Regions from separate parts of the Homo sapiens genome. Here regions 1 and 3 are each reported to be linked to region 2. The links are microRNA targets in miRTarBase. Many come from high-throughput screens and were not tested one by one. Region 2 holds a microRNA gene; each other region holds the end of a gene's coding sequence.
Evidence for each region. Region 2 holds the annotated microRNA hsa-miR-591 (AGACCAUGGGUUCUCAUUGU, at 2,133-2,152, shown strand). A microRNA usually pairs through its seed, bases 2 to 8, with sites in the 3' UTR of a target mRNA and lowers its output. Matches are read on the target gene's strand: a 7mer-m8 pairs with bases 2 to 8, a 7mer-A1 pairs with bases 2 to 7 and ends in A, and an 8mer does both.

Region 1: the mRNA of GALNT8 is a reported target of hsa-miR-591. The part of its 3' UTR that is shown has no 7-base or 8-base seed match.
Region 3: miRTarBase lists NDUFA6 as a target of hsa-miR-591. Seed matches in the 3' UTR shown: 7mer-A1 at 2,496-2,502.

The regions. Positions count from the first base shown.
Region 1 is chr12:4,772,094-4,775,351 of GRCh38, reverse strand. It overlaps GALNT8 (polypeptide N-acetylgalactosaminyltransferase 8), which reads right to left. Exons shown (of 11, transcript NM_017417.2): 11 at 2,626-2,907. The coding sequence ends at 2,755. Among named protein-coding and RNA genes, the nearest start is that of KCNA6, 36 kb to the left of the region's middle.
Region 2 is chr7:96,218,616-96,221,873 of GRCh38, reverse strand. It overlaps MIR591 (microRNA 591), which reads left to right and starts at 2,118; the gene lies at 2,118-2,212. All of the region lies in intron 4 of SLC25A13 (solute carrier family 25 member 13), which reads left to right.
Region 3 is chr22:42,083,619-42,086,872 of GRCh38, forward strand. It overlaps NDUFA6 (NADH:ubiquinone oxidoreductase subunit A6), which reads right to left. Exons shown (of 3, transcript NM_002490.6): 3 at 1,908-2,696. The coding sequence ends at 2,565. SMDT1 (single-pass membrane protein with aspartate rich tail 1) reads left to right here. Exons shown (of 3, transcript NM_033318.5): 3 at 1-666. Among named protein-coding and RNA genes, the nearest start is that of NDUFA6, 5.5 kb to the right of the region's middle.

The sequences.
Region 1 (3,258 bases), not on the chromosome of region 2:
TCTTCCATGAGTTGATATTTTTGAAGCATACAGACCATTTCTTTTGAAGAATGTCCCTCAATTTGGGTTTGATTGATGTCTCCTCAAGATTATAGGTTCAGGTTCTGTATTTTGGCAGGAAAACCATAGAAGTGATATTGTGTTCTTCTTGCATTATATCAGGAGGCCCATGATATCCGTTTGTCCGACAACTGATGATGTTAACGCCAATCACTCAATTAAAATTACCGTTATTTATTTTAATACTCAAATTGTCCCAGATTTGGCCAGTGGAAGCCCCTTCAACCTGACCATTGTGGTTTGTGACAGGTCCCCATAATTTTCTGAGCAGTTTATAACTTTCTAAAATAGAAAGATATCCCAGCCCCAGCCCTAAAATTAGCTATTTCTCCAAAGGCTTGTAATTCCTTTCACTGGAAAATATTTAGAAACAAGATCTGCGTGCTGCATGTTAGGTGTGATCAATGTGTGTGTGCATGAGTGAGTGTGTATGTGTTCATTTACAATATGGAAATATAGTTAGGTTCACTTATTTTTGTTTATACTCCATTTTGGGTTTCTATCTTTATTGATTTTATAGATTTATATTTTAAGCATTTGAAACATAACACGGTTCTAGAAGTCAAAACTATAGAAAATATAGTTAGAGAAATGTCACTCTCCCCACATCCCTTCTATCCCGTTCCTATTCCCAATTATTTCTGCCCTATTTCCAACCACCACCACCTATTGTAACCAATCTCATTATTTTCTTATTTATTCTTCTTATGTTTTACTTTGCAGAAATGAACAGATGCAGGTATATTTTTCTCTTATTTCTTACCTAAAAGGTACATAGTATAGATACTATTTTTCTTTTCCCGCTTAACAAAAGATACTGGAAATCACCCCATATCAGTTCAGAGAAAGAGTCTTTGTTCTTTATCATAGCTGCATAGTACTCCATTATATGGAGGTATTCAATTATTCTCTGATGTTCAGCCACATCTTTTTTTTTTTCAACATTTCTCAGTTACAATGAATACTGCAAAGAGTCACTTTGTGCTAAGTATTTTCTTATTTTTAAGGTAAATCTCTAGAGGTGGAATTACTGGCACAAATAGAAAATGTACATACAGTTTCTTTAGATATTGCTAAATATCCCCAGTTTGCCTTATGTATAAGATTGCCTGTTTCTCACAGCCCTTCCAAAAGAATGTGCTGTCTTACTTTTTAATTTTTACCAATTTAAGTGAAAAGTATCTCAATACAGTTTTAATTTGCATTTCTCTAACTACGAATGAGGTTAAACATCTTTTCATATGTTTAAGTATTGTGTCTTTTATCCAACTTTCTATTGGGTACATGCTTTTTCGAAACTTTGCTGTGAACTGCATTTTCCCTTCAATTTGCCAGGCAGAAGCTAGAAGTTATACATTTGCTTAACATTCATCTTGTCCCTTGATTTTTTCATAATAAAATCGTATCTGCAGTAGTTTTAGTTCTTGATATGGCAGTGTTCATAGTGAAATTTTAATCAAGCTATCTATAACCTGTACACTTTTAAAAGTTCATTTTTATAAGTTTTAATTGATTAAATTCTGTACCAAATTATCACTGTCCTGCTTGCCTAAGGCCTGAAGAAAACCTAATGATTCCCCAAATCATTTCCAGGCAGCCCTGACACGGGACTAAGAGAGAAAAGTGGCCCTCTGAAGAAGGGGTTCTGGGAGCACATGCTTGAAGGGTAATCCCACAACACACCACACGCACAGGACCATCCTACCTCCTCTCCCACCATGGTGCCTGGTCCCACCAGCCTCCAAGACCTTGCCAAAAATTGGCAGGCTGAGCTATATCTTCCCAACTCACCAACTAGCAGAAAATATTTATCCAGTGGGCAGCCGTAGAATCCCTGGTTTTAAGATTTTGCCTGCAATCTCTTCTTTGCCCACAACAAGCGATGCCCCTCTGATTCAAGCCTCATCTTCTCCATAATTTGCAAGAGTAGGAGGAGGGAATAGGTAATTAAGTCATTAAATGTTATGACCTACTAAGAGAAAGGCTTTGATGGCCCTGGATTTTCTTACCCTTCTCAACACACTGTCCCCTGGACAGCTGTGATGAGTCGAGGTGCCTTCTCTCCTCCCCTCAGCCTCCAGAATCTCTTTGGTGTGGGAGAGACTGATCATCCAAATAAAACTGCCATGGAAGGATGAATGGAGGAATGTTTAAAAGTCACTTATCTATTTTCTGCATCTCTCAGGACAGTCCAGGCAGGAGGGAGAATTAGTGCTACCTGAAGAGGTGTCATGCTGCCGGCCTGAGGAGGGCCCAGCCTCTCACGTGGAATGGCCCCCGGCAGCCTGGGGAGTCCCCAAGCAGATGAGCTGGGGAGGAGGTGTGGGGCAGATGGCGACAGTAGCTGTCGGGAAGGAAGGCTAAACATCGTGGGCAGAAGTCAAAGATAAACTTCCAACCTCCTCCTTCTCTCCCCACGTAACAGCCAAAAGATGCTGGTTATTTCAAGGAGTTTCCAAGAATGGCATTTGATATATATCACGACCTTCCCAGGGAAGCTGGGGACGAGGCATCAGAGCTTCCTCTCCTCTCTCCAACAGAGACACCCCGGCACACGCACAGGCCCCACCTGAAGTCGCCATAAACAGACATACACATGCTTTCTTTCTCATTGAGAAAGAAGCTGGGAGTGTTAGGAGTAGAAGCCATTCCACTTGCAAGAATTGATGACCCAGATCCAGCACCATCTGAGGATCACTGGCTGTTGGTCTGACCCCAGTCTCTGACAGTGTGCTGGATTTCCCACACTTGCGTGCTACAGGTCTGGAGCACAAGCACGTGGCTACCCAAAAGATCCTTCTTCATCTCCAGACACCGCTTGGTATCTCTGTTTATGACAGCTCCTCCCTGGAGGGGAAGAGAGACAGAGCCAAGGTGCTGAAATGCCTCAGTAATTCATCATCTCTTCTAGCCCTGCTCTCCCTGCTGTGCTCAGCCACATTCTTGAGGGACCCCTCAGTGCTCCACAAGTCATCCAGGGAAGAAAGGGAAGCAGAATGTAGGATGAGATCACCCCGTGCTTCCTCTACCAGCCCCATGGCAAACTGACTAACCAGGCGATGTTGCGCTGGCTTCGTGTGATGCCCTCAGCCTCTCCTGAGATGGAAGCATTGGGTCAGTACTGACTACCATGGAACGAAGGCATCTGTGAGAACCGTGGGCCTTCTCAACTTGGCCCTCCTCTCCACGTCCTCACCC
Region 2 (3,258 bases):
ACCCTTTCTGAGTTCAACTTAGATTGTGTCCAGGAACACCTGCTATGATGAAATTGGTGTGCTTTGGGAAAATGGGTAGGCTAGATGACATTAGGAAATGTGTGGAAACACCCACTCAGTCACTTCGATTCAGGTTGCAGAAAATGATGGGAGTTAAAAGTATGGAAATGAGAAGTTTCGAAGTTAAGCACTCAAATTTAATATTAAATATATAAAGCTAGAGGAATGCTGGTATTGGATTGGAAGAAGGCAGACTTTACCCATCATTTTTAAGCTTGCTGGAAAGGAAGGTCATTTGTTACTGTCTTTGTAAAGACACTTCGAAAATGAAATATTCGAAAAGATAGCTGAGGGAGAAGGTGGTGAAGAATCAGAAGAAACGTTACTTGGGGAAAGTTCTTCATTAATATTGGTTCTGATTTTGGTGTTTCACAAAAATAATGTGTCATTTTGATGAAAGAAAAATATTGCCCTGCAGTAGATTTGATTTTATTTTATGAGAGGTAAAGAGGGGGCTGAGTATATTCTCTTATACATGCTTACATCCCAAATAGAGAGTAAGAATTTCGAATAAGAACAGTATGAGTTTTGAAAGTAAATAGTCTCTATGTTGATAAGAATTGTGGCATGCCTGGGTACTGAGTATCTTTTCAGAGATCCTAGAGACTGTCCAGAAACTGTTCCAGTTCATTGGGTCAAAAATCCACTATTTACGAAAAGCTAAATACGGATTTGCACGATTGACCATAATGGCTTCAATTTTGAAAGATAGTAGTATCAGAGAGCACTTCCAGTTGGTGGGATAATTTAAGAATCGCCCGTGCTCAAATGGCTAAAATATTGTACTTTTTGCTACTTCATCACTCCATTTTAAAAATAGAGAGGGGGAGAAAAGAAGGCAGACCTGTTGAGAAGGTGGAAGAATGTCAGTTGGAGAGCAAATCAAAATAACCATGTGAAGCCACTCCTTAGTTAACTACTGCCTGAAGGTTAACTGTTCCTTAGAAGCCTGTCAGGGAGTGGAGAGACTGGACTGGGGGCTGCTGTCCCTGTGTGTGCATGTGCACCTGTGTGTTTGTGTGTGCATGTGTGTGTGTGTATGTGCATGTTCATGTGCATGCATGATGAAGGGTGAAGAGAACTTGTGAGTAGGAAAGAAGGTGTAGAGAACAGAAAGCTAACATAAAATCCTGAAACTTAGAGTCCTAGGAAAATTTGACTATTTTAAACTAACTGTACTGCTTATTTAAAGATAGGAAAATTATACCATTCTTCTTCTGGTATAAGAGAGAGATAAAAATACAGTTTTTCTAAATTGGAAAATTTGCTGTAATCTTGCTGCTAATGACTGATTTCTTCCAACAGTTGCAAGGCAGTTTTTGCTCTGATAGGTTGATAAAGGAAACAAAATCAAGAACATATTGGAAATTCTCAGAGAAAATTACAGTTTAGGTATATGTTGGGGGTGGATACTTAGACATTTTAATTGAAATAAAACAGTTTTATACTAATATGGGATCACTGTGGGTGTACATTTGTAGTACATCTGCTCTTGAAGCATTTAAGTAGGGTTAAATGTATGTTAATGCTTTTGCAAGAAAATTTTCGATAATATCCGTCTAAGGAAACTAGCTTAGGAAATAGGTTTTTGAAAACAATATAGATATTATATTTGCATTTAGAGAGTGAATTAGGACTCTGTAATGCTTTAAGAATTTTAAAACATTAGTTGTATTCTCTAGTGGTAATGAAAGTTAACAATAATTAACACACAGCAGATGATTAAAGCAAGCTTACACATCTGGAGAGTGGCCACAGTCTGCTATATGCCTCTAAACACCATTTTAATTGACCTACTTTTGATATTATGAAAGGCTAATAATGATTTATTCTACCCAGTTGAAAATACTTTTTCTAGCAGATAATTGGAAACATCTCAGTTGGCCCCTCTGTTGATTTAGTTAGTGTGTGTGACAGATGGTTAATATCTTACGCTAAATATCTGCCAGCCTTGAGCCATTTTGTTGTTGTTGTTGACTCACAGTCACTATGATGACTTAAATAGTGTATGAATCTTGAGAATTGATAGATCTGTCAGATTATAGAGGAGGAGGGAGTCTTATCAATGAGGTAGACCATGGGTTCTCATTGTAATAGTGTAGAATGTTGGTTAACTGTGGACTCCCTGGCTCTGTCTCAAATCTACTGATTCATAATTTTTGGGTGTGGGGCTTGGGAATGTGTTTTAAACAAGCTCTCCAAGGGAATGTAGTTCCTACTTCAAATGAACAATGGCTGAGTATAGTTTATGGCTTTCTTTCATGGATGAGGAAACAGGCCCAGAGGGGAAAAGGTGACTAGTTTCATAAGAATCACAACTTTGACTTCTGGCACTAGAAGGATAGGGTTCTTTCCTGAATGCCACATGACCTTAACTCAGGCTAGTTCCATCCCTAAGTACAGAACTGGAAGAGTTTTAAATTAGCCCTAATTTTTACATACACCAATACCACATATGACTTTAGTATAATATTTGGCTCAGCTTGGCTGTGTGTGTGCTTATTTTTTGAAAGATACCTATCACCACTGTACCTACATGTTCAGAATAATAATAATAAAAAGTTTACAGGGGATTATAGAGAACTCAATTTTAATGTGAAGTACTTATGCTCTACTTACTATGTTTTAATGGCAACCATTTTCCCCCTAGAAGTTTCTTGAGCGACTCTGAATTGTAGCCAGAATACGTCTTTCCTCTTCAGACCCTTAGCTGTGATTAATGTAAAAAGGCACTTGTCAAAAGGGTTTGAAATGGCAACCTTGATATTGGAGCATATGGCAGTAGAGATAGGTCTGCATCCACTTACTCCATTATGTTATTTAATGTACGAATTCAACAATTTGTCTTTTGCTCCCTGCTTAAAAGATGATGGCCGTAGAAGCTGGTTGTTAACCATATCAGCAGGGTGGAATATTACTTCCCTTAGAGAAAAACCACAACTTTCTTTGAGGATTTAGCATGCATTAGAAAAAGCATGAAACTGTTCAGAGATAAAATGCTGGGCCTTCAGCAGTCCTCTCTTTGCCTCCAAGAGGGGTTACTTTTATGTTTAACACAAACATCCCTTTTGTGTTTATTGTATTAATGGAATTTTTAAAATCCATGAGAAAGAGAGAGAGATTATGGTTTAGTGTTTGAAATAATATAGCTTGATGAATCTTTTTTATTTTAATGAGAAACTCTTTTTCATAGATATG
Region 3 (3,254 bases), not on the chromosome of region 2:
AGCTCTGCTTGTTAGCATACTACTTAAATATAACTAGAATGATTCAAAACTCGGGTTCTGTGATATGAGGATATAGATAGGTTTTCATCTATTTCCTGGCTTATAACTCCCAAAACCCTTGTTTTAGGCTTTTGTTATAATGTTGGGCACTTCGGGCCTCAGAAAACAGCAGGCTGTTTCTCAGATCTTCTCCTGACCTCCTTTCACCTGCTGCTTTTTCTCCCCAAGGCAGGCCATAGAAACTAAAAGTATAATCTTCCTTTGCCCGTCTTCCAGTTGGCCATAAAAAGAATCCTCTGACCTACCTTGTCTGATTTTAGGTCATGAGACCCCCATTTCAGAAGGGATTCTGCCCCATACCTGAGAGGAAGAAATGTAGACAGGCCTTGTTGGACTTCCCCACTCCATCTGTATTAGATTATGCCTCTTTTGTCCAATCCCATTTCTCCAGTGTTGTCCATGCTTCAATCATCCCTATCCAATGAGGTCTCCATAAAAGGCCCAAGAAGACAGGTTTAGAGAGCTTTCGGAGAACAGAACACTTGGCTTTGCAAAGTGGCACGCCTGGAGAGAACTTGGAAGCTCCACGCCCCTTCTATACCTCACCCTATGCATCTCTTCAGCTGTATCTTTTGTGATATCCTTTATAATAAACCAGTAAACGGACCTAAGTGTTCCTCTGAGTTCTGCAAGCTGCTCCAGCAAATTAAAAAGAAGGGGTCAGCCAGGTGCGGTGGCTCACACCTGTAACCCCAGCACTTTGGGAGGCCAAGGCGGGCAGATCACAAGGTCAGGAGAGCGAGACCATCCTGGCTAACACAGTGAAACTCTGTCTCTATTAAAAAATAGAAGAAATTAGCCGGGTGTGGTGGCGGGCACCTGTAGTCCCAGCTACTCGGGAGGCTGAGGCAGGAGAAGAATGGCGTGAACCCGCGAGGCAGAGCTTGCAGTGAGCCGAGATGGCACCACTGCACTCCAGCCTGGGCGACAGAGTGAGACTCCATCTCAAAAAAAAAAAAAAAAAAAGAAGGGGTCATGGGAACTTGAAGCTCAGAAGTTCTGGAGGCTTGGACTTGTGAATGTTGTCTAATGGGGGTGGGAGCAGTCTTGTGGGACTGAGCCCCAAACCTGTGGAATCTGTTGCTATCTCCAGGTAGATAGTGTTCGAAGAGAATTGGAGGACAGGCAGCTGGTGTCTGCTGCAGAACTGACTGCTTGCTTAGTGTGGGGAGAAACCCTCATAACGTTTGATCACAGAAGTCTTATGTGTTTATTGTTATTGAGTGAGAGAACACAAAAACACCTTGAGTTTTTCCCTCAGGTTCCTTACGTGAAAAGATTATAAAGGGATCCTTGGTGCCATAAGGTTTGGGGCCATGCACAATGGCTGATGCCTGTAGTCCCAACACTTTGGGAGGCGGAGGCAGGAGGATCACTTGAGCCCAGGAGTTCAAGACTGGCCTGGGCGCGGTGGCTCACGCCAGCACTTTGGGAGGCCACGGCGGGTGGATTACTTGAGGTCAAGAGTTTGAGACCAGCCTGGCCAACATGGTGAAACTCCGTCTTTTCTAAAAATATAAAACTAGCTGGATGTGGTGGTCCATGCCTGTAATCCCAGCTACTTGGGAGGCTGAGGCAGGGAGAATTACTTGAACCAGGAGGTGGAAGGTGCAGTGAGCCAAGATCACACCAGTGCACTCCAGCCTGGGCAACAACAGCGAGACTCCATCTCAAAAAAAAGAAAAGAAAAAAAGACCAGCCTGGGCAATGGAGAGACGCCATCTCTATTTAAAAAAAAAAAAAAAGTATGGGAGTCCTCAGTGATCATACCTATAGATTCCAAACCCCTTCTCCATCATTTGGATTGCCCTGGGAAGCACAAGAGAAGACCACCATCCAAACAGAGATCAGTTCTTGAACCTGTGTTGATGTTTATTCTGCCACTGAGAGGTACACCAGGGTTTCCAAAGACAGTAGGAATATTTCTGTTCTCTGTGTATATTGAACAGCTGTGCACCTAAGCAGGGTGCCTGAGTAGGAAGTTAATTTCATTTTAAGGGCTGGAGCTTGTTACAAGTAGCGGAGCCAAGCCTTTGCACATCCATTTTCTTCAGAACCCAAGGAAAACTAGCCCATCTTGACAGCTCTACTTTTGCGCCTGTTAGTGCTGCCCTGATCCCTGACAGGAAGAGCTGGCTAATTTTAGATAATCTGTGCCCTGACACTGAAGTGTCTAATCATAGGGGCTATAGAAACAACTACATTAACAAGTCGTCCAGCCTCATGCCCAATGTCACAATTTTTGAACAGATGGCCTCCTTCCTTCCTGTTTACTGACATGCAAGGCTCTGAGAAAAATAATTCAATCCAATTTACAGCAAACACCACATTTCAAGAAAAGGGAAAGAACAGGTGATGTGTATACCAAGGTCCCACTTGCTCAGGCAAAAAGAGGCTGCAGAAAATTGGTTCATCAATGGAATTCTATCACAAAGTGACCATTGTATAGTGAGTTTATTTGTGCTCTAAAATAGTATCAACGTGCATCTTTCCACTGAATGACTTCATGGATCGTGGCCAACATAGAACTTGGATAGGAAATCCTTTGGCCTTGGCGCTTCTGTTTCATGGAAGAACCGCATAACATGTGTCCGCTGCTTCCATACTTTAATTGTTTCTTCCAGTTCGATCTTTCCCTGAACAGTGAGGAGAGAGGTCATCAGTCAAAGTTGTCAAGTTGAAGGCATATGACACTGAAGGCCAGGATTCTATTCTCTGCTCAGCATGGACTTGTTGAATGACCTTGGGCAAGTAACTACTCTGTCTGGGCAAAGTTTCTATGTCTGGACAATGAGGTGGTCAGGGTAAATCATTTCTGACACTTTTCAGATTCTTTAACTCTGTGGTTAACTGGTACCAAGAGGAGAAACATACAGGTTAACAGGCTCCTATCCCATGACTACCTAACCTGACTGGCTTAACTTATGTTTCTGCTTATCATTTCTTCTGTTACTGACTGGTCTATGCTGAAGCTCCCATTGATGCTAACGTGACTGGCCAGGGGGACAGAATCAGCCCCAGGATTTGAGTCCATTTATACAGGACTCATAACCACCCTAACTGCCTCTTCCAGCTGTAAACTGGCATTCAGATGAAGTGGTAACTTCTAGGGATGAGGTTCAAGAAGAGTTCAAACTTTCCTCCCTATATCTTTTTTTATGGTTATAAAATGCAAGTCCCAGTGGATGTTCCCT